2 linked regions of the Homo sapiens genome follow. The protein of the gene in region 2 interacts with the protein of the main gene of each other region in a pairwise test. Each region holds a gene or a part of one and is shown on either strand. Other genes may lie near its edges.

Region 1 (13,166 bases), on a different chromosome or scaffold from region 2:
CATCCATTCAAACAACACGTCTAACAGCAAAAGTTTAGACACTGTTTGAATTAAGATTTATTAAAATATAAAGCAGTTGTGTGTAGAGACAGATCAGGGCTTCCATACTGCATTTCTCTGCTGGCCTTGCCTCACTTACCATTCCAAGTGACTTTCAGAATTTCCCACTGAATTGTGTGACCAAGCTGGTAAATGACATGAAATGAAGTAGGTAGTTTCAGGACAACTCCAAGAAAAACAACTAGGCTATTAATAGTGGTTTATGGTATCTCCATACTGTTATGGGACCTATCGTTTACATATTCTGGTTGTGCCAGGTCTATTAAAGAAATCTGAGAACGCTGAAGACATTAAGATAGTCCTTTTTAACAAGTAAGAATTTAAAGGAGAATTTCTTGTAATTACTTCAACATAGCCTATTTTCTATGTATTTGCAATTCTATAACCTAAAGGCCAAAACCAATCATTCCATGTCTAAGTGGTAAAGAAGATAAACACCTTGGAACAGATTTTTCTTTCCAGTTAGTAGATGTATAGCAAGTTGGCACGATGACTTTATTTTATTTATTTGTTTTGGTGGGGGTTGGGGAAAACCCTTCCTTCTCCATACCTTCTGAAACTGTTTCCGGGCCTACAGTTCCAGCACTTGCATTGGTCAGAAGAGGGTGTCAGACAGTGTGGGGCACTGACACAGCAATGGGAGCTGAAACAGAGGTCCCTGGAGGACTGACTCATTTTAGAGATTTTTCTTCATGAGGATATTGGCTAAGATTTTGAACCAACTAAGATCCTAGGGGTTCATGGGCTTATCACTAAAGGGAGAATGCCCAAGGAGAAAAATATTATTATTATAGTAATAATAATAAATAATAATTATAATTAATTTTAATACTAAAATGAAATGTAGCTTTATATCATAACCAAGTTATTAAAGATGAACATATCAGTTACATTAAGATAAAAACAATCAGGTAATCACATGCATATATCTCTTTGCCTTAAGTGTTTAATCTCAGATACATATATATATTCACACACACAGTGTTTCTGCTGTATCTTTCATACAAACGGTAAATCATGATCAATTAGTTATTTCAGATAGGGTGATAGGACTCTGGGAAGTACCAATGAAAAACTAAAAAACAAAAAAAAAAACTAAATACATAGCCAAATGAGTACAGATTTGCTAAGGAGTGTTGACTAAAGTCTGAGTAGATCCTTATTCCCATTAATAAGATATATATATTTTAACATTTGACTATTTCAAATATGTGTGTGTAGGGTATACAGAATGTTTGTCCTAAAATAACCAGATAATTTGCAATATAAACTTACTGTAAATTAAAGAATCATTAATTTTAAGCTATAATTCCTGAAGAGACAGACATTCTTGTGATTAATGAATTTTGAAAGCTTGAAGTGAACATTTTCTGGAGTTAGCATACCCTGGAGGCAATTTCTATCTCTGCTGCTTAATCTTTCTTATTTCCTTGTCTATAATCTGTTTCCTTAACTAGGTCATAACAACTTATTAATCATTATAAAATATTTATTATCCTTTAAGTACTCTTGACCATCATTGTTTTAATCTGATATGTAGAATGACATGAACATAGTTTGTCACATTCAGTATTTGTATAAACATTGAAGGTACTACCGAGAGGAGAAAACCACTAAAATCATGATCAATTTTAACAAAAATAATTTTTTAAAATTTTAAATGAAGCAAAAAACCTAGATTTAAAGATTAAATTTTATATTGGGTTTGGGAAATTTCATCCTACAGAAACAAAATGAGAGTACTGTGGTACTTTTCATGATCTTTCACTTTTATGCCTAGATTTCCTCATCTGGAAAGTATGAATTCTACTAGTTGCCCAGATTTTCTTCTTACGAAGATTTAAGAGGAACAAATTCAAATTCCTAAGAAAAAAGTTGCTATATGATTTTAAAGTTGTTATTTTTCATCAATAATTGTTGCATCTGAACTGGCAAATGACAAAATAAAAATATAATTTTGAATATATAAAATTTACATGACATATAAATTTACATTATATGTATGGAGTCTTTGTCCTAGACACTTTATGGAAGTTTACCATAGAAAGAATCAGAATTTTCTCATGGAAAAAAACAGTAGTTGTGTGCCATATATATTTAAAGCATGCATATTTGATTATTTTCTTCAATTCTTCTGATATTTTCATTTAAAAATTAAACTTACAATTTTTTTTTTCAAGAACAGAGTCTCATCCCTCTGTCACCCAGGCTGCAGTGCAGCTGCACAATCACAGCTTGCTGCAGCCTTGACCTCCTGAGCTTATGCAATTCTCCCACCTCACCCTCTGCAGTAGCTGGGACTATAGGCACGCACCACTGCGCCGGGCTAATTTTTTTTTTTTTAATATTTTGTAGAGATGGGAATCTTCCTATGTTGCCCAGGTTGGTCTTGAACTCCTGGGCCCAAGTGATCCTCCCGCCTCAGCCTCCCAAAGTGTTGGGGCTACAGGCATGAGCCACAAGCCAAAATTTAGATTTTCTGAAAGACTTAACCAAACAGGTACATTCAAATTTTTTGAACCTGAAAAGGTAGTTTCAATTATTCCCTCACTTATTTGTGAAGAAATCATTAATATCTATGTAAAGTGCTACAAGAATCAGGGGTGAAAAGGACAACGAAGCTCCAAAGGCAGAAGAACTATTGAGAAAACAGTTTGAGCCTTTTTTCCAGTCTAGGTACAGATTATGGGGTAGAGATGGAGAGTCTGCTTTTGAGCTGCCTTACCTTATACCCTTCCCCATTAAAGCTTAACAGAAAGCACTAGAACTTATAATTATTAAGATTGAAATGAGAATCATGCTTAGTTTCAAAAATTTAAGTCTATAGTCACCGGGTGCTCTCACTTAAAATAGTTTAGTTATTTCATCATTTTTTACTTCTGGGAGAAATTCTTGGCACATAGTGAACAGGAATGAAAACATGAGACAGCAAAAAGTCTCAGCACAGTGCAATCTGAAAGGTTCAGAGGCATCCTTTATGTAATAAGTAATGGAGTCACTGGAAAACTGCCTTTAAAAACAGAAGTCTCTTGCCAAAAGTGAAGACTAACCATAGCATTTGAGGAATAAAGCAGCATGAGGCAAACACCAGGAAATGTTCAAGGCAAGTTTCTTATGTAAAGACCCATAATGAAATATTTAATAAAGTCTCATTTAAACAAATTATGCTAGATAAAAATTTGCATTGTATTTCTTAGTCAAGGTGGAGTGGGGTTGAGGGAGTAAGCAGGAGAGGGAATTACTACCTGGCTAAAAGCAGCTCTAAAATTGTATCACAGGTGTGTGATACAAAGAGAAGTGTAGAGAACAAAGAGAACAATTTCTTTTCCTTTATGCCCAGTTGAGTTTCTCTGCCCCAAGTGGTTTGTAGAAGACCCTTCTTGCATACTGCCAACAAAATTTTCACATCCACTAGATATTCCATGATTTATAAGTATTATAAATAAAAAGCAAAAGGGGTCATTTCTAGTTACACAAAAAGGGGAGAAGAGTTTTTGGGCTGAAATTCTCCAATGGCCTTTAGCAGAAAAATGAAGCCTTTTTAAAAATACTTGGCACAAAAGTTTTTATTCAAGTAAGTGTTAGGTTAAGGGGAGTTAAAAAGAGGGTTTTTCTAACAACACTTTTTACAACCAAGAGACATCTAAGGTTAAAGTGGGCTTCCAGATAGTGAGGAGGCATCTGTGGCCAGCTCTTCCTAAAGAAGCTCCTTAAATCAGGGTGTGGCAGACAGAGTTGGTGGATCTTGTAACCACCAAGAGAATTAGACCATCTCTGGAAGGACCAATGATTAATAATCAGATGGCCTTTCTTCGTTAGAAAAAAATGAGTATCTCAACAAAGAAAATGCCCATTAAAATGTCTTACTCTGCAAATTCTGCAACTGCATGAAAGGAAAAAAATCTGCTTCGGTTCTATAAATTGAATATCATGAAGTAAGCCAAGTTAAGTAATAGTTGCCTACCTAGAACCTACAAATTTTGTTTGCATTAGAATTTGAATACTGAAACTAATTTTTTCCTACCTCAACAAATCTTCAAATGTTGACCAACTGGGTCTTTATATCATATTTTTTCATAGATACCTTATGAAAAGTGATTGCATCTCAATTCTTATAAGAGGATCACAAATAAGATTCTTCAAGAAAACAAGTGTGGAGAGTAGGATCAAAAAAACATTTTTTAACTAAGTAACAGCTTTGGAAATACTTTCTCTTTTCCCCCTACCCCTGTTGAAAAGCAGTAACCTTTCTTTAACTTAAGGATATAATGTTAGGGAATAATGTTAAAATACTGGCATATTTTTATTTTTTTAAATTTTACTTTAAATTCCAGGATACATGTGCAGAATGTGCAAAGGTATACATGTATACGTGTTCCAAGGTGGTTTGCTGTACTTATTGACCTGTCCTCTAAGTTCCCTCCCCTTGTACCCCACCCTCCAACAGGCCTTGGTGTGTGTTGTTCCCCTCCCTGTGTCCATGTGTTCTCATTGTTCAACTTCTACTTATGAGTGAGAACATGGGGCATTTGGTTTTCTGTCCCTGTGTTAGTTTGCTGAGGATGATGGCTTCCAGTTTCATCCATATCCCTGCAAAGGACATGATCTTATTCTTTTTTATGGCTGCATAGTATTCCATGGCGTGCATGTGCCACATTTTCTTTATGCAGTCTATCACTGATGGGCATTTGGGTTGGTTCCATGACTTTGCTATTGTAAACAGTGCTGCAGTAAACATACGTGTGTGTGTGTGTCTTTATAGCAGAATGATTCATATTCCTTTGGGTATATACCCAGTAATGGGGTTGCTGGGTCAAATAGTATTTCTGGTTCTAGATCCTTAAGGAATTGCCATATTGTCTTCCACAATGGTTGAACTAATTTACATTCCCACCAACAGTGTAAAAGTGTTCCTATTTCTCCACAGCCTCGCCAGCATCTACTGTTTCTTGACTTTTTAATAATTACCATTTTGACTGCCATGAAATGATATCTCATTGAGGTTTTGATTTGCATTTCTCTGATGATCAGCGATGTTGAGCTTTTTTTCATATGTCTGTTAGCTATGTAAATGTCTTCTTTTGAAAAATGTCTGTTTATATCCTTTGCCCACTTTTTGATGGGGTTGTTTCTTTCCTTGTAAATTTGTTTAAGTTCCTTGTAAATTCTGGATATTAGACCTTTGTCTGATGGGTAGACTGCAAAAATTTTCTCCCATTCTGTAGGTTGACTGTTTACTTTGGTGATAGTTTCTTTTGCTGTGCAGAAGCTCTTTATTTCCATTTGTCAATTTTGGCGTTTGTCGCAATTGCTTTTGGTGTTTTCACCATGAAGTCCTCACTCATCCCTATGTCCTGAATGATATTGCCTAGGTTTTCTTCTAGGGTTTTTATGGTTTGGGGTTTTACATTTAAGTCTTTAATCCACCTTGAGTTAAAAATACTGGCATATTGTATAATTGTACTCACTATTTAAGAAGGGCCAAATCTCTTATCAAGGATCTTTGAGTGAGGAAGTGCATGTTAGTGTTCTAAAGATTGAAAGATTGAAACCCGTGGTACCAGTCTGCAAGATGACCCCAATAATTGCTGACTCCTAGTCACACCCTAGTGTAGTCTCCTCCCACATCAAACAGGGCTGCCTTGTGTAACCTACAGGATATTGTGGGAATAACAGTGTATGACTTCCAAGGCTATATCATAACACACATTGTGGCTTCCACCTTGTGCTCTCTTGGATGCTTTCTCTAGAGCAAGCTTGTCCAACCCATGGCCTGTGGACTGTACACAGCCCAGGACAGTTATGAATGCAGCCCAATGCAAATTCGTAAACTTTCTTAAAATATTATGAGATTTTGTGATTTTTTTTTTTTTTTTAGCTCATCAGCCATCATTAATGTTAGTGTATTTCCTGTGTGGCCCAAGACAATTCTTCTTCCAATGTGCCCCAGGGAAGCCAAAAGATTGGACACCCCTGCTCTAGAGGAAGCCAACCGACAAGTCATGGTGACACTTAAGCAACTCTATGGAAAGGTACTCATGACAAGGAACTGAGGCCTCCTTACCATTCATGTGAATGGGCTGTCTTGGAAATGGATCTTCTTGACCCAGTCAAGCCTTTAGATGGCTGTGACCCCTGTCAACATCTTGACAGCAATCACATGAGGCTTTGAGGTAAACTGCTCCCAGATTTCCGATCTGCCAAAAATGCTGAGATTATGCATGTTTATTGTTGTAAATCATTAAGTTTAGGATAATTTGTTTCTACAGCAATAGTTTACAAAGTCTTTTTCCCCCTAAGAAATACTAACAGTGATACAAATGAACATGGCCATCTTAAGGCAAGTTGATGGGCTCTGTGGAGTTACTGGTACTTAGATGGAAACTTATCTCAATAAATTTGCAATTTAGTTTCTTGTTTCTCAAAGTCTTGTACCAAGACCAGCAGCATTGGCATTACCCAGGGGCTCATCAGAAATGCAGAATCTCAAACTCCACCCCAGAGCTACAGAATAGCAATCTGCATTTTAACGAGATTCCCCTATGACATGTAAATATATTAAAGTTTGAGAAGAAGCACTGATTTATTTGATTCCTGGTGTTACAGCCTGTGGTTGGAAACTCTGGATATACCTTAGGGGTACTTTTAAAAAAATACTGTTGGAGAAGCCCGTCTCCAGAAATTCTGATTTAACTGATCTAGGTTGAGGCCTTTTAAGGTGGTGGACCTAATGATGCTGCAGGATTTTCCTCTAGAAAAACTACATTGAAGCCTCAGATCAGCTCTGACTTCCTAGCATGCCCCAACCCCGCAGGAAGTTAGGTATGCCCAGGTGTATGCCCAGAACTGCCTTAGGAGTAGTATTGTGCACCGAGCAGGAGACCTTTCTGGAGCTGCCATGAAGGGTGTGTATGCGTGTGTGTGCGTGTGTTTGGTGGGGCGCACCAACTTCACAGATGCTAGACCGTTGCATGTGCTTCTACCTTCTTTTATTCATGCTCTTCCAGGACTCAGTTCAACCCGAAAAAAAGCAACTATGCCTTTCTTCCTGAAAGGTCAGTTTGGATTGCTGTCTAGGGCTGCTCAGAAAACCAGGTGTTGAATGTTCTAAGGTTTCACGTGCCAAATTGGGATCAAACATATTTGAGCTTTATTTTTCCTAATAACAAAATGCAAGTAACTAGTATTTCTCTTAAGTCTTGGAAAAGATGTTTTTATTGTTGAATAGACACTACGGCATTAAGATTTCCACTATGATGGGTGCTCACAAATGATAGGCCTCTTAGGTAAGAAGCTTTAATTGACAACATTAAATATGCGGGGCGGGGGGAGTGGGTGCAGAGTCTCTCTTTCCTTTGTTAGGGCATCCCAGTGACAGAAACAATGCCTGACACATGGTACGCTCTCGATAAATATTCGTTGATTACATAACCCCCTCTACCACCCAATAACTTCTCATCATTCATTCAAAGTTACTGAACGTACCATATTAGCGAATCTGCAATGGAAACAGTGGAGGCTGTTTTCTCAAAGGATTTTCTAATAAAGCAACAAATCTTTTTTAAAAAAAATGAATGGTGTGCCCCAAGTCAATGCTGGGCTTCGGATTTCTGCGGTAGTTTGGCCTGGGGTCCTCACTGGGATGCTGGCTGGGGATGTGCTCCCTGCCCTTGAATCTCCTTCCTTTGTAGTTTTTGGCCTGCGCGGTTACGTTTCCCAGGCGGAGGAGCGCGCGTCGCGGCTGCGCCCATTAACGCGCGGCGCCGGGCAGGAGCCGTCAGGCGGGCGGGGCTGCCCGGGACCCGCAGGAGCTGCTCCTCCCGCGCCGGCGCTCGGCCCCCTCCTCCGCCCCCTCCTCCGCCCCCTCCTCCCCTTCTCCGCGGTTTGGCATCCCCGGGGCCGGGAAGCCTCCTCCAGCGCTGACAGCCTGTCGGCGGCGGAGGGAGGCCAGAGCGCGGATGCTTGCCAGTGGGCCGGGCCTGACCGCTGCGTGGGAGGCGGGCTGCATTATTTCCCGCTAGGGCCGCGCTCCAGGGAAGGAAGGGGCCAGACACGGCCCTCTCAGCCCCGAACGGCGCGCGCTGCCCGGCGGGCGGGATCCGGGCGCGGCCGAGGCGGCGGCGCTGCACCCCGGGCCTGGGCCCGCGCGACTCCCCCGGGGGCCTCTCCCACGCTCCGCGCCCCGCCCCACCCTTCCTTCCTTCCTCCCCTCGGCGCTCCCGGGAGCGCTCGGCAGACGCCCGAGCTTTGTGGGCGCCCGCGGGCCCAGCGCGAGCCTCGGGCGGCCCAACTTTGCCTCTCCCGGTCGGCTCCCGAGCGGGACTTGTGAGGCGTGGCCGGGTGGAGGAGGCGCTTGCGGGGGCGTGGGGCTCCCCGGCAGGCGGGAGGCACGGAGCAAGTCGCACTGGACAATGACCTGGGCAGCTCGGCGCTGCGGACACTTTTAGCTGAGGGCGCGGGCGGGTCGGCTCCTCCGCGGCTCCTCGGCCCCACCTGCGCGGAGAGGGCGGGATGCCAGAGCCAGGTGTCCCGGCGCGTTAAGGGCCCTCGCAGTCAGACGTCCCTGCACCGGCGCTCGCACCCTTAGTCGGCCCGGAACGTCTTTTTGCGGACGCCCTCGGAGCAGCCGCGATGGCCAGCACCAGGAGTATCGAGCTGGAGCACTTTGAGGAACGGGACAAAAGGCCGCGGCCGGGGTCGCGGAGAGGGGCCCCCAGCTCCTCCGGGGGCAGCAGCAGCTCGGGCCCCAAGGGGAACGGGCTCATCCCCAGTCCGGCGCACAGTGCCCACTGCAGCTTCTACCGCACGCGGACCCTGCAGGCCCTCAGCTCGGAGAAGAAGGCCAAGAAGGCGCGCTTCTACCGGAACGGGGACCGCTACTTCAAGGGCCTGGTGTTTGCCATCTCCAGCGACCGCTTCCGGTCCTTCGATGCGCTCCTCATAGAGCTCACCCGCTCCCTGTCGGACAACGTGAACCTGCCCCAGGGTGTCCGCACTATCTACACCATCGACGGCAGCCGGAAGGTCACCAGCCTGGACGAGCTGCTGGAAGGTAGGAGGGGAGGGCGCCGCACGGCAGGTGCGGCGGAGCGCCGGCAGGTGCAGTGGGCGTGAGCCGGCGCAGCGGGGAGCCCGCGGGGTGCTTTCCAAGCCGCACGGGAATTGATGCTTCTGTCTGCTTCTCTAGAGATTGGCTGGGGGTGGGGGCCGGTGGGGTGCCCACATACACACTGACTTTCCTTCCCAAGAGGTTTGTCTCTTAAAGAAGGAAAAAATTTCCTGATGGTCAGGCCAATTTAGGCACTGGTGGCATCTCCTAAGATTGTTGAACTTATTTGTATTGAAGTGCAAACTGTTTGAGAAAATGGTTCTCCCATGGGGAGCTGGGTAATCCCCTACTAATAAGCTCTGTTGGACCCTCGGTGTGGACCCTGGTGCAGGCTCCTGTCATGTTCCAGTATTCGGGGTCCTGTTGTGACTGCTGTCAGAAGCTGTGGTTGTGAAATGCTCTAGGTTGGCTTTCCTAGTTTGCCTTGCAGCAGAAGTTACTTGAGGTGAAGAGGGATGATCCTAGACAGCAGGTCTCAACCTTGGCTTCATCTTGGATCACACTGGGGACTTCGAAAAATATGGGACCCTGATCCCCCAACCCCCAGATATCCTGATTAAATTGGTTGGGTTTGGGGTGTGGGTTAGGCGTCTGGAGTCTCAAAAGCCCCCCCCCCAGGTGATTCTAATGTGGGACCCTGGTTAACAATCACCGTGCTAAAGGGTTTTCCACATTTGGTTGGAAAAAAGGTAAATCAAGGTCAATCTCTCCAGCCTTATCCTCTAATAAGAGTACCTAATTAGAATGATAGAGGCCATTGGATTCAGCAGTGGGGACTTATTAAAAATTAGTAATTCTGCTGTGTCAACCATGCCTCGGTCAAAGAGACTGCTTGGCTGGATGTTGGGTCATCCTTGAATTCCTGCAATACGTATGCCTCATCCTTTTCAGGTAGAAAAGGCATTATCAGTGGTTAAGAACCTGTTTCCAGTTCTAAATAACATCCAGAAAGACCAGGCAGAACCCAGGTATGTGCTGACTGCGTGTTTACATACAGTCCGCTCTTGTGCATCTTTCTTAATGCAAATGGCACATTCCATGTAGTCATAGCAATAGCTTGGCAGGGAGAGGAAGCTGAACATCAAGCCAGATGTTTTTCTTATATTATCTCAGCATGCTTTTCTGTCCTGAAGGCATTATCCCCATTTTATAGATGAGGAAACTTAGGCAGCATGCCTTGCCTCACAGTGCCTGCAGCATATACTTTCTCGTCTACGATTCACCTCTGCTGAGCTAATGGAGCCACATGGAGGAAAACTAAAGGTCGTTGAGTTTGTCTATTTAGTCAGAAGTTTTTGCTGCCCTGCCTAGAACGCGACCCAGCCAAAATTAAATTGTCTCTTCAGTCTACATATGTATGTGCTTGTGACTTCACCCATTCTGTCAGTTGTGTGTTTTGGTTTTAAGGGCTTCTTGAGGAGGTAAGGGGATAGCTGGAGGAGTATAAGTAAAAAAGGAAGATACAATGTTCAAAGGGCCTTGTTGCTTTTCTTAATCATGTTAAACACTTAAAAGCAATATTTGCCTAGCTATTTTAAAACAGAGTAACCAGTTGTTTGACTGACCCAAGATCAGATTTGCAGGATCAAGGCAATGCCTGTTTGCTTAAGCACTTGTTACTCAACATGCCATTGGGATACTACTGTTCCTGGTATGGTTTCTTAAGAGTCAACAATGTTAATATCCTTCTCTAAAGAAATTTTAACAGTGGATTTACTACATAAAATTGACATAACGTAAACATGAATCTCATAGGAGAGATGATAAGATGGACATTATGCATGTCCATTAATAGGAGTACTTAGTATAGATTGCGTCTTTTACCGCCCACCGCATGCATGTCCACTGGGTCTACTTCTGCAACTGTAGTTTCAACTACAAATTGACTTAACAAATTTCCTTCAAATCATTCACTGATTTTTAGTGGATGGGGATTTGGAAAAAACATTATCTATGGAGTCCAAATCATACCAAAATATGATAAATAATATAACAAATAGTTGCACAGCCAAAATTTTTTTTATGACTTTGCCCACTTCTTTGAAGAAGTTTTTAATACAATAAAATTACTGCAAAAGAAGAAAACTTGGACACTTTTTTTGTCATATGGAACTCTCTCTGACAATGGGTCTTTGTTTAATTCTTCAGTTTTCCCCCAAATTAGTAGAATACTCCATAGCAATGCAATTTTTTTTTTAAAGAAAATATAGGTACAATAGTTCACGTCTGTAATCTCAGCACTTTGGGAGACTGAGGTGGGTGGATCACCTGAGGTCAGGAGTTCGAGACCAGCCTGACAAACAAGGTGAAACCCCATCTCTACTTAAAAAAAAAAAAAAAAAATTAGCCGGGTGTGGCGGCAGGCGCCTGCAGTCCCAGCTACTCAGGAGGCTGAGACAGGAGAATTGCTTGAACCCAGGAGGCGGAGGTTGCAGTGAGCCAAGATCACACCACTGCACTCCAGCCTGGGCGATGGAGCAAGACTCTGTCTCAAAAAAAAAAAAAAAAAGAAAAGAAAAAAAGAAAAAGAATCACGAATGCTTACTGTCAATCATTCCAGAATGTAAGTAGTTTCAACTTTTAATTAAAATTGTGTGCTCAGATTTTTCATGTAGGAGAACTAAGCAGCTATCTGTGAAGTTATTTGCATTAGTAAAAATAAGTCTGTAATATATTCACCACATTGTCAAAATTGACTGCTTTATTTCGTTTTGGTTGATTATTTTTAATAAAGCTCTCTCAGGTAGTATTTTACAACATTATGTTCAACTAGGCTCTACTTCTTCGATCCCATGAAACTTGTAGTTTAAGAGGTATGTTTTTTTCTGAAATGTCTTGAGTGAAGAATAGAAAGTGATGACTCAAAACAGTAGGATATGAACATTCATTCAGAGCCCCAATCTCATTGAACTCAGATGACAAAAGAAATTTGCATGGCCCAAATTATTTTTTCTTCTGCCCTTGACCTTGAGAGTCTCTGGAGACTAAAAGCTGTTCTAGTGTGAGCTGGCACTCCTCCAGCACTACACTAAACCAGCAAGCACCTTCAATTTATTGATTTATCCATCCTTGCTGGATTAAGTTTGAGTTGATGCTGTGCAGTCCTGTAATCCTGTTTATTCTTTAAAACTAGTTGGGGGACCTCTTCCGGCAGGACTGTGGCTCTTAATCAATATTGGAAAAATTAGTTGAGCTGTCTTAAGCTGTGAGCCTGCTGAGCTCAGTATCTGTAATAACCAACAGAGAATGTCCAGATGACTTGTTCTTTAGCTTTCTTATTAGGGACTGATTCAGAATTCCTAGTCTTAGTTCTGTTCCGTGTGTCTTCTCTCCTTCTGAGCGTTTGGTCTTCTCTCCTTCTGAGCATTTTGAAATATTTATAAAGTTTTGATGACCTAAAGAGATATAACCAAGGACAGTAGAAAAAGTGCCTGACCAAGTCAGGATTCCTGAGTTCTACTGACTAGATTTGAGAAAAATTTCACCTCACTTCCCTGGCCTTGGCATCCTTTTCTCTAGGATGAGAAGTTGGCAGACCACCTAAGTTAGGTCTCTTCTGGTTTAAAAATGTGTATGTACCCGTTAATTATCTGAGGGGTTATTGTTGGAGCATATGATGGCTTGGGCTGCCATTCCCTAGCCAGAACCCATCTTCCAGAAAATCGATGAGGCTGCACATGTCCAGATAACAATCACAGAATGGGGTGTATATCTCTGATGAAGTGCTTGCCAAGAGTCAAAGGCATTAAGAGCTACCTGTGTCTGCCTCTCTCATTCCAAAATAAAATGTCATTTTGTTATTTCTACCTTTTATCCCTTCATAAACAATAAGCTGATTGTTTTTTGGCATATGAGAGAGTTTTGGTTATTTTGATAATGATACTTTCATTCCCTCATGAAGTTAACAGGGACATGTAAGAAAAATAAGATTGTAAAGAAATCAAGCCCATGAAGTTTGAGGTCCTCCTACCAAACCTATCTACCGCATCTGTTTGGT
Region 2 (12,438 bases):
TTTTGGCCTCTTGGGAAAGATGGTATGTTCAAGTTTGCTAGAAAGAGATAATTATCGCTTTTAGCGACACCTCTCACGGAAAGTTCATCGGGATATTGGTCTAGAGAGAAAATGGCGGCGGGGGGTGGGGGTGGGGGAAGCCGAAATACCTCAGTTTAGGATCTGCTATGGGCAATGGATGCCCTAATTTAAGGTTAATTGTAGATCCACGGGCTTCCAACTGTGTATTTCCGTCATCTACACTTTTCCCAGAAAGAGATGCCATAATAAATTTACAAAACAGTCCTATAGTCTAGTTTTATATTCTTGTCAAGAAAAGGTAATATTTAAAAAGTACTAGCTAGAATTCTATAAAAAACGAACAACAAAAATCACTGCCCTCTGAATGTTCGTTCTTGATTATTTTGACGCAAGTAGAGACAGCTTTTTTAAATCCGGCATTATCTCCGGGTGGTGCAGACATGCAATTTTTTATGAATTTTCCCACCCTTGGGAAATCGATTTCTGAAACGTGTAATTGTTGTGCAGTAAGCCAAGTGGACAGTGACGCAATAGTCCACTGCAAGTTGCCTTACAAAAAATGATGTCATTTGGCGCAGATCTAGTCACTTTTATAACAGGTAGCTATGGAAAAGCTCCCTCCACGTTGTCCCCGATTCCCCCACCCCCACCGTGGCCAAGATGCAAAAAGACACTTTCCTGGCTTCCTAGCCCTCAACTTGTCGAGGGTGGGCGCACCGCAGTGGCTCAGGGCCCATCGCTCGTGCAGGCGGAGAGAGACCGCTGCAAGGGGACGAGGACAGCTGAGTGTCCTCAGCCCCGACGGCGGCGCCGCGGGGGAAGCTGCGTCGGGCCCAGTCCAGGGCCGCGACGCCCGGCCGCCTGTTTTCCTCGGTGGGAAACCGCTGGCGTGGCGGGCCGGCAGCCGGGACGCGGGGCGCCGCGGGCGCGGGACAGCCTTCCCCGCCCCCCCTTCCCCCCCGTTCCCACACCCGCTCCCGCTCCCGTGGCGCCGGAAGTGACGCGTTTTGGGCTGAAAGATGGCGGCATTGGCGCTCGACCAGGGGGAAGGTAAACACCCGCCAGGCCACGGGCTGGCCCCCTCGGGGCGCCAGCAGGGGCCGAGGGGGGGGCCTCCCGGGCCAGCTCCCCGCCCCCAACGGCTTCCCACCCTCCGCCCTCTCTCCCAGCGTGGCGGCCTTCCGCGTCAAGACGACAGCGCACTGGGCCCCCTGCCGGCCAGCCCCGCCTCCCTGGGCGGGCCCCGGGCGGCTCCCGCGGCCCGCAGGGGGCGCGCGGCCCGGAGCGGCCCCCGGCTCGTGGCCCCGCACGCCCCGCCCCTTCCCCGCCCCTTTCCCGCCTTCCTCCACCCCCGGCGTGGGTGATCCCGAGGCTCGGCGCGCTTCGGGGCAGAAGCCCAGAGACGCCGTCCTCGACGCTTCCTCGGCTGGTGCTTCTGTCTCTGCCTGCTGCCCCCCAGCCCTTTTCCCCGCCCGCGGCCCCAGTCGGCCCTCCCGCCGAGCCCCGTCGGGTGCTGCGAGGCCCCCGGCGTTGGCAAGGTCGGTCCGGGCCCCGACGCCGCGCCGCCTCGTGCGGAGCCCGACTGTCTGGTTTCTCGACTCAGCGCTGTCTTCTTTCCCAGGACTTATCCAGAGGGGGCTGCAGGCGAGCACTCTCGTGCCCCGCCGGAGCGACCCGGCTCGTGCCGGGAGCGGCTGCTCGTAGACGTCCGAGGAGCCTGCCGAGTGCCGTCCCGGCGCCCGACCGCCCACCCATCGGCCCGCTGGCCCGGTTCTTCCTGATGCAGACTGCCGTCCACTAGAGGCTGGACAGGACCCCCCGAGGTACGTAGCCGCCCCTGGCCGCCGGCCTGCGGAGCCCGGGCTTCGCCCGCGGCCCCGAGCTAGGCACGAATTCGCCGGCCCTCTCTGCACGGACCCGAGTCAAACATTTGGTAGACGCCGGGACCTCGTTTGTCTTCGAGTTTACTTAAATTGTTTGAAATGTAATTTTTTTTTCCAGAGAGAGCGAGAAAGAAAAAGGAAGAAGCATAATTCAGCCATTTTTTGCAGCACACAGCTGCAGGTACCATGATTATTTTTTGCCTAACCCGTTCCTTCCCTTTAACAATTCAATTTATGCCTGAAATAGAACTATGCAAAATGCGAGGCATAAAACTAGGAATCGGAAGGTCTGGGTTCGACTTGGGTGACTCTGAGAAAAAATCGCGTACCGAGCCTTGGTTTCTTATCTATGAAATATAGTCGGTACTACCAACATCGCAGGGTTGAGAGGACTATATGAGGTCATATATGTGAAAATAATCCTTAACTGTAGAGTGTTGTAAGAATGCAAGGCCGTTTTTTAAGTAACCTTTGGTAGAGTGGTTAATGTAGTGGCTAACTGTTGCTGCCTCTTTATTTCTATATTATAAATATAAGCAAATAAGTACGGAATAATAGTAAAGCAGTGCTGTGAATCCATAGATCTGTAATAGTCACGTTGCTTGGCCTTCCTCCTACGAAGTGCTAACTGCTTATTTAAATAACGGTATTCTTTAATTCAAATGTAACGTTACCGTAGGGGCTTTGCTTTTCATCGTTCTAGGCCGCTTTAGGCCCCTTTTCTTACTCCAAATATTTAACACCTTACATTTGTTAGTCTTTTCTGTTTTCCGAATTTGTTTGCCTTTGTTAATCTGATTAAGTGGTAATTTAGAAAATGCTTTGCAGACATATATGCCCTAATTTTAATGCCTGTTTTTCATATCTAGGGAGCAGGATGCTTGAATACTTCTACTAATTTGAAAATTGGTTTTGAAGAGCTTATCAATGCATTCATGTTTCAGTAATCCTTAATAGATCTAGAAATGTATAGAACATTTCAACTTTTTAGCACTTAATGTAATTATATAATTTTATTCTCATTTTTAATCACAACACGTAGTAGGTGCTTAGAGTCACAGTTTATCAGTGGTAGAGGATGTTAACTTGCACTCTTCATTGCTGATTAATTTGGGGAAAGAATAGGATAGTAAATATTTGTGGTTTGAAAATTGAATTTATTTTGCCAGGATTTATATGTGTAACAGATTAGTATTGATCATTTTTACTTGGCATATCAAAAATATAGTATGGTTTGGCTTAAATGGTCCACAAAAAGTGAAAAGAGAAGCATTTTTGGGTATATTGTTATTTTTAGCTAACAAATGGTTTTGAGTAGTTAGATGTTTTATTAAATTTATAATCCTCTAGTCCAATACCAGTTGTCTTTCAGAGTATGCTTTTGTGTTTTGTAAAAAGGCAAAATAATAGAAGTTGGGCAGGATTTACATAGTAAAAGGAAGAGCCTACTTCAAAGTGGCTGGTTTTATAGATTGGATTTATCACTAATCTTGATAAAATTTTGACAAATCATTGCTTTATTGGGGATTTCAAGGTTTGACCTTCTCTCTACCTCGAGTCGGGTTATCTCAGAAACCTAACCTTGATCAGGGCAGGCTTGGCTTCATGGATGTTCAGAAGGGCCCCACACTTGGTTTAATAATCTGCATGTAAAACTGGGATTGTACAGTATAAGGGTGAATGGTAAAATTCATGCTAATTTAAATTTTTAATTTTCCTTTACTCAGAACGACATTAAACATCAAATTTAAAAAACACTGAGAGCCGGGAGCGGTGGCTCAGGCCTGTAATCCCAGCACTTTGGGAGGCCGAGGCGGGCGGATCACCTGAGGGTCGGGAGTTTGAGACCAGCCTAACCAACGTGGAGAAACCCCGTCTCTACTAAAAACACAAAGTTAGCCTGGCGTGGTGGCGGGCGCCTGTAATCCCAGCTACTCTATTCCCAGCTACTCGGGAGGCTGAGGCGGGAGAATCGCTTGAACCCGGTAGGCAGAAGTTGCGGTAATCCAAGATGGCGGCACTGCACTCCAGCCTGGGCGACGAGAGCAAAACTCCGTCTCAAAAAAAAAAAAAACCGCGAAACAGTTGAGAGATACAGAAGAAAGTTTTGAAAGAGCTTTACATTTTATTACCTTTAACGACTTTTTTTTTTTTTTTAAGACAAGAGTCTTGTTCTGTCGCCCAGGCTGGAGTGGAGTGGTGCGATCCGATCCCCGCTCATTGGAACCTCCACCTCCCGGCCTCAAGCGATTCTTGGGCCTCAGCCTACTAAGTAGCTGGGATTATAGGCGCTCGCCACCACGCCCGGCTAATTTTTGTATTTTTAGTAGAGACGGGGTTTCACCATGTTGGCCAGGCTGGTCTCGAACTCCTGGACTCAAGTGATCTACCCGCCTTGGCTTCCCAAAGCGCAGGCGGGAGCCACCGTGCCCAGCCTTTTTTTTTTTTTTTTTTTATCTTTTGAGACACAGTCTTGCTCTGTCTCCCAGGCCGGAGTGCAGTGGCGCGATCTCGGCTCACTGCAACCTCCGCCTCCCGGGTTCAAGTGATTCTCCTGCCTCAGCCTCCCGAGTAACTGGGATTACAGATGCGCGTCAGCATGCTTGACTAATTTTTGTATTTTTAGTAGACACGGGGTTTCACCATGTTAGCCAGGCTGGTCTCGACTGACTTCAAGTGATCCGCCCGCCTCGGTCTCCCAAAGTGCTGGGATTACAGACATGAGCCACCGCGCCCGGCCATCGCCCAGCCTTTTAACAACATTTTTCCCTGATTTTGAACAAGAGTCCCCGCAAATGATGTAGGTGGCCTGTTGTCAAGCCTGGCCTTTCCCAGTGCAAATGTTTTGAGAGTGAATAATGTTAACTGTGAGGAGAATGAATCTTTAGCTTAGAGGAGGTGGATTACTTTATTAGCATCTATTTTCTCTGAATTGGAGTGCTATAGCTCATGTGGTGCTTTTTTTTTTTTATTGAAGAGAAATGAAAGATGGAGCCATGGGTGAGGCATTGTAGAACAGTGTTTAATAGGGGAGGCTATGAAGTCAGGCAGACCCCAACTTCACAACTTACTAATAATTATAGCCTTGGGCAAGTTACTTAACCTCTGTGAGCTTTGATGTTCTCATCTTTAAGTCGGGGATGGATACAAAACATGGAAGGTTGCGAGAATTAAATTTATCTGTCTTTCCAACAAATATTTATTAAGCACTTATTATGTGCCAAGCACTGTTTTAGGTGCTGGAGATGCAACAGTCAGTGAAGCAAAACCGACAAATTGAAGCAGAAAGGAAACTAAGTAAAATGGATAGCCTGTATTGCCATTTAATATACTGCAGAGAATAATAAAGTGGAGGGGCATGGGGATTGTCAGGTTGATGGGGCAGATGGGGTTTTGCAACTTTAAAAGAGGGTGTTTGAGGAAGGCCTCACTGAAATGACACCAAAGACCCTAAGGGAACCATATATATCTGGGGATAGTGTGATCCAGGCAGAGGGAACAGGGTGTAGAGAGGCCTTAAGTTGGGAGTGTAGCTGGTTTTCAAGGAACAGCGGCACCAAGGGAGATAGTAATATAAGATTATTATTATTGCCATTTTAAGAATCATTGGAAAGGCTCTCATAGTTCATCTCTGCCAAGGGTATATGTTGTATTGCTGCTGGTCCAAAAGTGGAAGACCTTTTCAGAATTTGAAATTTTAACTTTGCAAGTAAGAAATTAGGAAAGACAAAATATGTTGTCAGGTTTTCTGTTTTTAACGTAAGACCCTTAAAGCTCATCAGGCTCAATCACTGAAACATGTAAGAATGGATAGAAAAAAATACCCTTTGTCTCTGATAAGATCTTTGAATTTAGTTAATGATATATATTATAGACTAATGATTTGCAGGAAATCTGTATCATAACAGCAAGACTTTCCAAAATATTTAGTTTGGTTGTATAATTCTTATGAGGAACTGAAAGGCTAACATTACAGTATTTGTGATTTCATGTTAGAATAGAACTTAGAAGATTTGGGGTTTTATTCCCCAATAGAGGCTTTTCCTAGAATTCTCACTGGATCCAATCTCTAAAGGCTAGGGAAGCTGTTTTCCATGACATCACTCTTGGACTACTTCTAGTCATAGTGTGGAATAAGCAGAGAAGCATTAAATTAAAGTCTTCTGATGAAAAATAGCATTCAAGCAGGGTTTTTTTTTTCTTATAAGGCTTCTTGTATTATAGGATGACGAAATGCTAAACATACCTGAAAAGTGAAGTAATTTGGTGCCAGTCTGGAGGCTGGAGGACCCAGGGCCCTCCTAATAGCTTAGTTAAATGGTCATTTGCAATTTGGTCCTGAGTTATAAAAATATTTTGATGACAAGAAAGAATTTCCAGTATTAAACAAATTAAAGTTAACTTACACAACGTCTCCTCCCATATTAAAGTGAGTTTTCAATTTGAGTAGTGTATTGAGAGTAAAGTGACCGCTAATAGAGCTTAAAAGTCTGTCTTTAAATTTGTCTTTTCTTTTATATTGGTATGTTGAGAAGTTGGCTGCTTTGAGATTGTCAAATTTACATTTTTTTACTTTATGGGTTACAGAAGTGAGAAATGTTATGACTCAGAAATTAATTCTGTTTTTATCCGTAGTAAGCCTTTGCATTCTCTTTTCGATATGCAACTGTGGCATTTTCTGCATAGGCATCAATTTTGGTAGGAGAACAGTTTGGGGATGAAGATAGTATGAAATCATTTAAATTTTTCATTGAGGGTAAGTATATTATATCAACCTCTGAGAATCTAGCTTTTGCATTGAATACCTTAAGCTTTTGTATGAATTTTCAAGCAGCTGTGGAAGGAATGTGAAAGCAATAAATTATTGCTTATGGCACAAACATAGAGGTTAATTTTGAAATGTCTTTTAATTGCCTATAATTTTGCCTTCACATCAGAATGGCAGCCTTATAACTGAAAAGGAAGCATTTAATTTCTTTGCCTTTAATTTCCTGTCCAGTTTTACCCCCACCAAACTTCTTTTTTTACTGGTCACTAGAGAGTTTGAAGTGTTCAAAAATTCTGTGATATAAATAGCAGTAATAGTCTTCCAGGGCAGAGGTAGGAAGAGGTTGAGGTTTGTGCGTGCACGTGTGTGTGTGTGTGTGTGTGTTGTCACTTATCTCTTACACTTTCAGTTGTTCTCAAGCCTGTGGTCTCAGGACTTCTTTGTACTTATTTGTACTCTTAAAAATTAGTGGGGGCCGGGCTTGGTGGCTCACACCTGTAATCCCAGCACTTTGAGAGGCCGAGGCGGGTGGATCGCTTGAGGCCAGGAGTTCGAGACCAGCCTGGGCAACATGGTGAAACTCCGTCTCTACTAAAAATAAAAAAATGAGCTGGGCGTGGTGGTGGGCTCCTGTAATCCCAGCTACTCAGGAGGCTGAGGCAGGAGAATCGCTTGAACCCCGGAGCAGAGGTTGCAGAGATCATGCCACTGTACTCCAGCCTGGGTGCAGAGTGAGACTGTCTCAAAAAATAAATAAACAAATAAAAATTAATTCTATTACATGGTAACCTAAATAACATTTTTTTATGAAAAATAACTTTTCTAAAACAGTTAAGAACTTGGTGAAAAGAGTGGCATTGTTTTAAATTTTTGCATATCTCTTTAATATCTGGCTTAATAAAAGCCAATGGGCTTCTCATCAGCTTCTGCATTCAGTCTGTTGCAATATCACATACCATGTGTAAACCTCTAGAAAACAGAATGAAAGTGAAAAAGACAAATAACTATTCTTTATTTATGTATTTATTTTGAGAAGGAGTCTTGCTCTGTCGCCCTGGCTGGAGGTGGCGCAATCTTGGCTCACTGCAACCTCTGCCTCCTGGGTTCAAGCAATTCTCGTGCCTCACCCTCCTGAGTAGCTGGAATCAGACGCACATGCCATCACCCCTGGCTAAGTTTTGTATTTTTTAGTAGAGATAGGGTTTCACCATATTGACCAGGCTGGTTTTGAACTCCTGAGCTCAAGTGATCAGCCCACCTCTACCTCCCAAGGTGCTAGGATCACGGATGTGAGCCACTGTGCCCGGCTGACCAATAACTTTAAAAAAATTATTTGGATAATAATTTTGACATTGGGAAGCCCCTTTAGTGGGGACTGGGATCTTTTAGGACAACTGGATTCACTTGTCCCCAGATCATGCTTTGAGAATCCCTATACTAATCATTCTTAGGCACAAAAATGTGAGGCTTTCTTTTATTTAGTCAGTACCAAGTTTATGAAACAAGACACGTTCTTCAGTATTTCTTTCCTGGTAGTATAAGTATGCCTTGTCATTTGGTCTAATTGGTTTCCCTCTTGAAAAAAAAAAAACCTACTATTTGAAATTCTGAAGGCCATGTATAAAGTGTTGATAAACCTATATATGAAAAGTAAGGATACAGAATTTTTGTACATTGAACATTTTGTCAGTAAATGTTTTTCCTCAAAGCCTCTTAAATTTTTCCTCCAGCACTCATTTAAAGAGTTCTTATTTAAGGTTTTTGTGTTTTACAATGATTCGTTTTTTTCTTTTGGGAGAGTGGGGCTACGCACTTCTTGTTGAGCACGCTACTGCTGCCGCGGCTGTCTCTGCCATTGCAAAGTAGTTCTTATAATAGTTTTCTTCCTTAAATTGATATAATTCTGTACTTAGATTTCTTTTTAGAGACAGGGCCTTGTTCTGTTGCCCAGACTGGAATGCAGTGGCTTCATCGTGGTTCACTGCAGCCTCGACATCCTCACCGCAAGCGATTTTCCTGCCTCAGCCTCCCAAGTAGCTGGGGCCACAGGAGCACGCCACCAAGCTCTGCTATTTAAAAAAATTTTTTTGTAGGGAAGAGGTCTGGCCACATTGCCCAGGCTGGTCTTGAACTGGATCAAGTGATCCTCGTGCCTTGCCTCCCAAAATGTTGGGATTACAGGCATGAGGCCGCTGTAACCAGTTAAAGAATTATGTACACAATTTTTTTTTTTTTTTTTTTTTTTTTTTGGGACATGGTCTCACTCTGTTGCCCAGGCTGAAGTTCAGTGGTGGATTATAGCTCATTGCAGCCTCGGCCTCCCGGGCTCAGTTTATCCTCTGACCTCAGCCTCCTGAGTAGCTGGGACTACAGTCACACACCACCACGTCTGACTAATTTTTATGTTTTTAGTAGAGATGGGGTTTTGCCACGTTGCCCATGCTGGCCTCGAACTCCCGAGCTCAAGCGATATGCCCATCTCGGCCTCCCAAAGTGGTGGGATTATAGACGTGAGCCACTGCGCCTGACTCTGATCTGTTATAAATCTGCATTATGATAAACCCTAGGGAGGCATGGGGTTGGTAGAGAGGGGAGACTGAGGGTTCTCACTTAGGTTAATTCATTTATTCACCACCCTAACTTGATAATAAGATGATGATGATTATTAGTAATGTATGGATGGAAACCAAGATAGGAAGTTAACAAAATTTCTGTAGGTCACACAGTAAGCACTCTGATTTCAGAGGTTTTGCTCTTTCCGACCACACTATTTTGTATTTTTTGCAAATAGAATCTAATTTTTTTTTTTTTTTTTTTGAGACAGGCTCTTAGTTTGTTGCCCAGGCTGGAGTACAATGGCGCCATCTCAGCTCACTGCAACCTCTGCCTCCTGGGCTCAAGCAATCTTCCTGCCTCAGTCTCCCAAGTAGCTGAGACTACAGGCACACACTACCACGCCCAGCTAATTTTTGTAGAGACGGGGTTTTGATATGTTGCGCAGGCTAGAATCTAGTCTTAACTTTATTTCTAGCTACTAGTTCTATGACCTTGAATAAAAAGTCAGTTCACCCGTGGACATTATTACTGTCTTCATCTGTGGAGTTAGAGTTGACCTGGGTCCTGAGTCTTGAGAAACTATACTCAGAAGGTGGGCTGGGGGGTTTCTTCAAAGTTAACTAGATCAGGCTTACTATTTTGGCTGTAGTAGTACCACACGAAGGGGCATGATAATAAGCCTTAATGTTACAGTGTACTTAAGGTCCATGCACTGTACTAAGTGCTTTACATCCATTAACTTACTTTATTATCGCAGCAACCTGTAAGGTAGGTTCTATTAATATTAGTACCCCAATTTTTTTTTTGAGACATGATCTCACTCTTTTGCCCAGGCTGGAGTGCAGTGGTGCCATCTCTGCTCACTGCAATCTCCGCCTCCTGGGTTCAAGCGATTCTCCCACCTCAACCTCCCGACTAGCTGGGATTACAGGCGTGAGCCACAACACCTAGCCAATTTTTTTTTTATTTGTAGTAGAGATGGGGTTTTGCCATGTTGGCCAGCTGGTCTCGAACTCCTGACCTCAAGTGATCCACTTGCCTCGGCCTCCCAATATGCTGGGATTACAGGCATGAGCCACTGCACCTGGCCAAGTATACCCCCCCTTTTTTTTTTTTTTTTTTTTTTTTTTTTTGAGACAGAGTCTTGCTCTGTCGCCCAGGCTGGAGTGCAGTGGCACCATCTCGGCTCACTGCAAGCTCTGCCTTCCAGGTTCACGCCATTCTCCTGCCTCAGCCTCCCAAGTAGCTGGGACTACAGGCTCCTGCCACCATGCCCAGCTAATTTTTTAGTAGAGACGGGGTTTCACCATGTTAGCCAGGATGGTCTCGATCTCCTGACCTCATGATCTGCCCGCCTTGGCCTCCCAAAGTGCTGAGATTACAAGCGTGAGTCACCGTGCCTGGCCTGAAGTACCCCAATTTAAAAGTTTTAGATTTTACACTTTTTAAATTAATTAACTAATTAATTAATTTGAGATGGAGTTTCACTCTTGTTGCCCAGGCTGGAGTGCAGCGGCCCGATCTCGGCTTACTGCAACCTCCGCCTCCCAGGTTCAAGCGATTCTCCTGCCTCAGCCTCCCAAGTAGCTGGGATTACAGGTGCCAGCTACCATGCCCGGCTAATTTTTGTATTTGTAGTAGAGACGGGGTTCCACCACATTGGCCAGGCTGGTCTGGAACTCCTGACCTCAGGTGATCTGCCCACCTCGGCCTCCCAGACTGTTGGGATTATGGGCGTGAGCCACCGTGTCCGGTCCAGATTTTACATTTTAGAGCACAGAGAGGCTGAGTAGCTTGCCCCAATATCACAGAGCTAATAAGAGGTAGAACCACGCTTCAAACCCAGGCATCTGACGCCAGACCTATACCCTTACTTACTACTACCATCTAGAGACTCTATCATGTTGGTCACTTAATCACTGAGTGTTTCACTGTTTTCTACTTAATACACGCTTACCATAAAAGTGTAAAGTACTGCTGCTCCTCTAAAGTTGTAGTCTTATTGATAAATGCACTAAGCTTTTTAGGTAGAAAATAAGTTACTGCATATGTCTCGGCTATCGCAGATGAGTTTTAAAAGTGTTTAGATCAGGTAAACTTCACAAATGCGTTGCTGAGACTTTAAAAGTAGCTATAGTTTATTTAACTGGCATGTGTATTTAGTGTGTTGCATATTTACAAAATCATATAAAAAGAATGAGAATTTTAGGACTAAAAATATTTTAGAGATCATGTCTAGTGCTCTTGTTTTTACAGATGCAGAGAGAAGGCCAAGAAAATTTGAGTAACTTACAGATATTTCTGTTCTAAAATTATTAGTTAGGACCCTTGGTTATAAGTAGGAAAAATCAACCTAAGGTAGTAAAGAGGAAGAATTTATTCTAAGAATGTAAGGTTCTCTCAGAACCCAAGGGCAGACATCGAACTGGGCTTAGCAACTGGGAGAACGAGGCGTTCAGGAGCACTGCCTGTCCTCCTTTTGGCTTTATTCTTTCTCAGTTGACTGCCTTTCTCTGATCTTCAGCCCACATGGCAGACAGAAGTGGGTGCCCACAGTTGCTCTTTGACATGTTCCAGTTCCCGTCATACACAGTCAATACACGTCTCTCTCTTTTTATCTTTGTTTCTCTTTCCCTCGCCTTTGCTAAGTTTCTGTTCATCTTGATTCATATTTCCCACTCCTGTATGACCACGAGTGACTGTGGCCAGGATCACAGAGTGGGAGGCTGCCTGCTAGGAATCCCTCTCAGCAGGCTGGGTGCCCAGAGGAGAGTGCTGTGTACTCAGACAGGAGCTGTCTTTACATATGTCTTTGGGGTCTTCTGACTCACAGTTTACCAATTCTCCTCCTCCTCCTCCTCTTTTTTCCCCCACTGCTTCTCTGCCTTATAATATTTCCATCATAGTAAGTATCTGGAACCTTAATTGTTGTGTTTTTTTTTGTTTTTTTGTTTTTTTGAGAAAGCATAGTTTCTCCTTTTATAAATTTCCTTTAGATGGAGTATTTTTCAGAAACGTGAATATTAGCTGTTTTAGACCTTTTCAGGTAATGATTAACTGTTGAATAGAGAGGGTGACTTTGACATGAAGTGAAGTGTGGTATTTTTAGGCATTGTCAAAATAACAGATTAATGAAACACAAAGCAGTTTACTCTCAAGTATATGAACACTAATTTCCAGCCTTCTATTATTAAATCTTCATTAAATGTG

The links.
Region 1: the proteins of KLHL15 (region 2) and DCLK2 interact in binary tests that used the Homo sapiens proteins (3 or more experiments, as listed by UniProt).

Annotation. Positions count from the first base shown.
Region 1 is NC_000004.12:150,070,337-150,083,502, forward strand, and holds the start of DCLK2 (serine/threonine-protein kinase DCLK2), read left to right. Parts: upstream 1-8,108; 5' UTR 8,109-8,691; coding exon 8,692-9,112; intron 9,113-13,166. UniProt on the Homo sapiens protein: Protein kinase with a significantly reduced C(a2+)/CAM affinity and dependence compared to other members of the CaMK family.
Region 2 is NC_000023.11:24,014,263-24,026,700, reverse strand, and holds part of KLHL15 (kelch-like protein 15), read left to right. Parts: intron 1-1,642; 5' UTR 1,643-1,844; intron 1,845-12,438. UniProt on the Homo sapiens protein: Substrate-specific adapter for CUL3 E3 ubiquitin-protein ligase complex.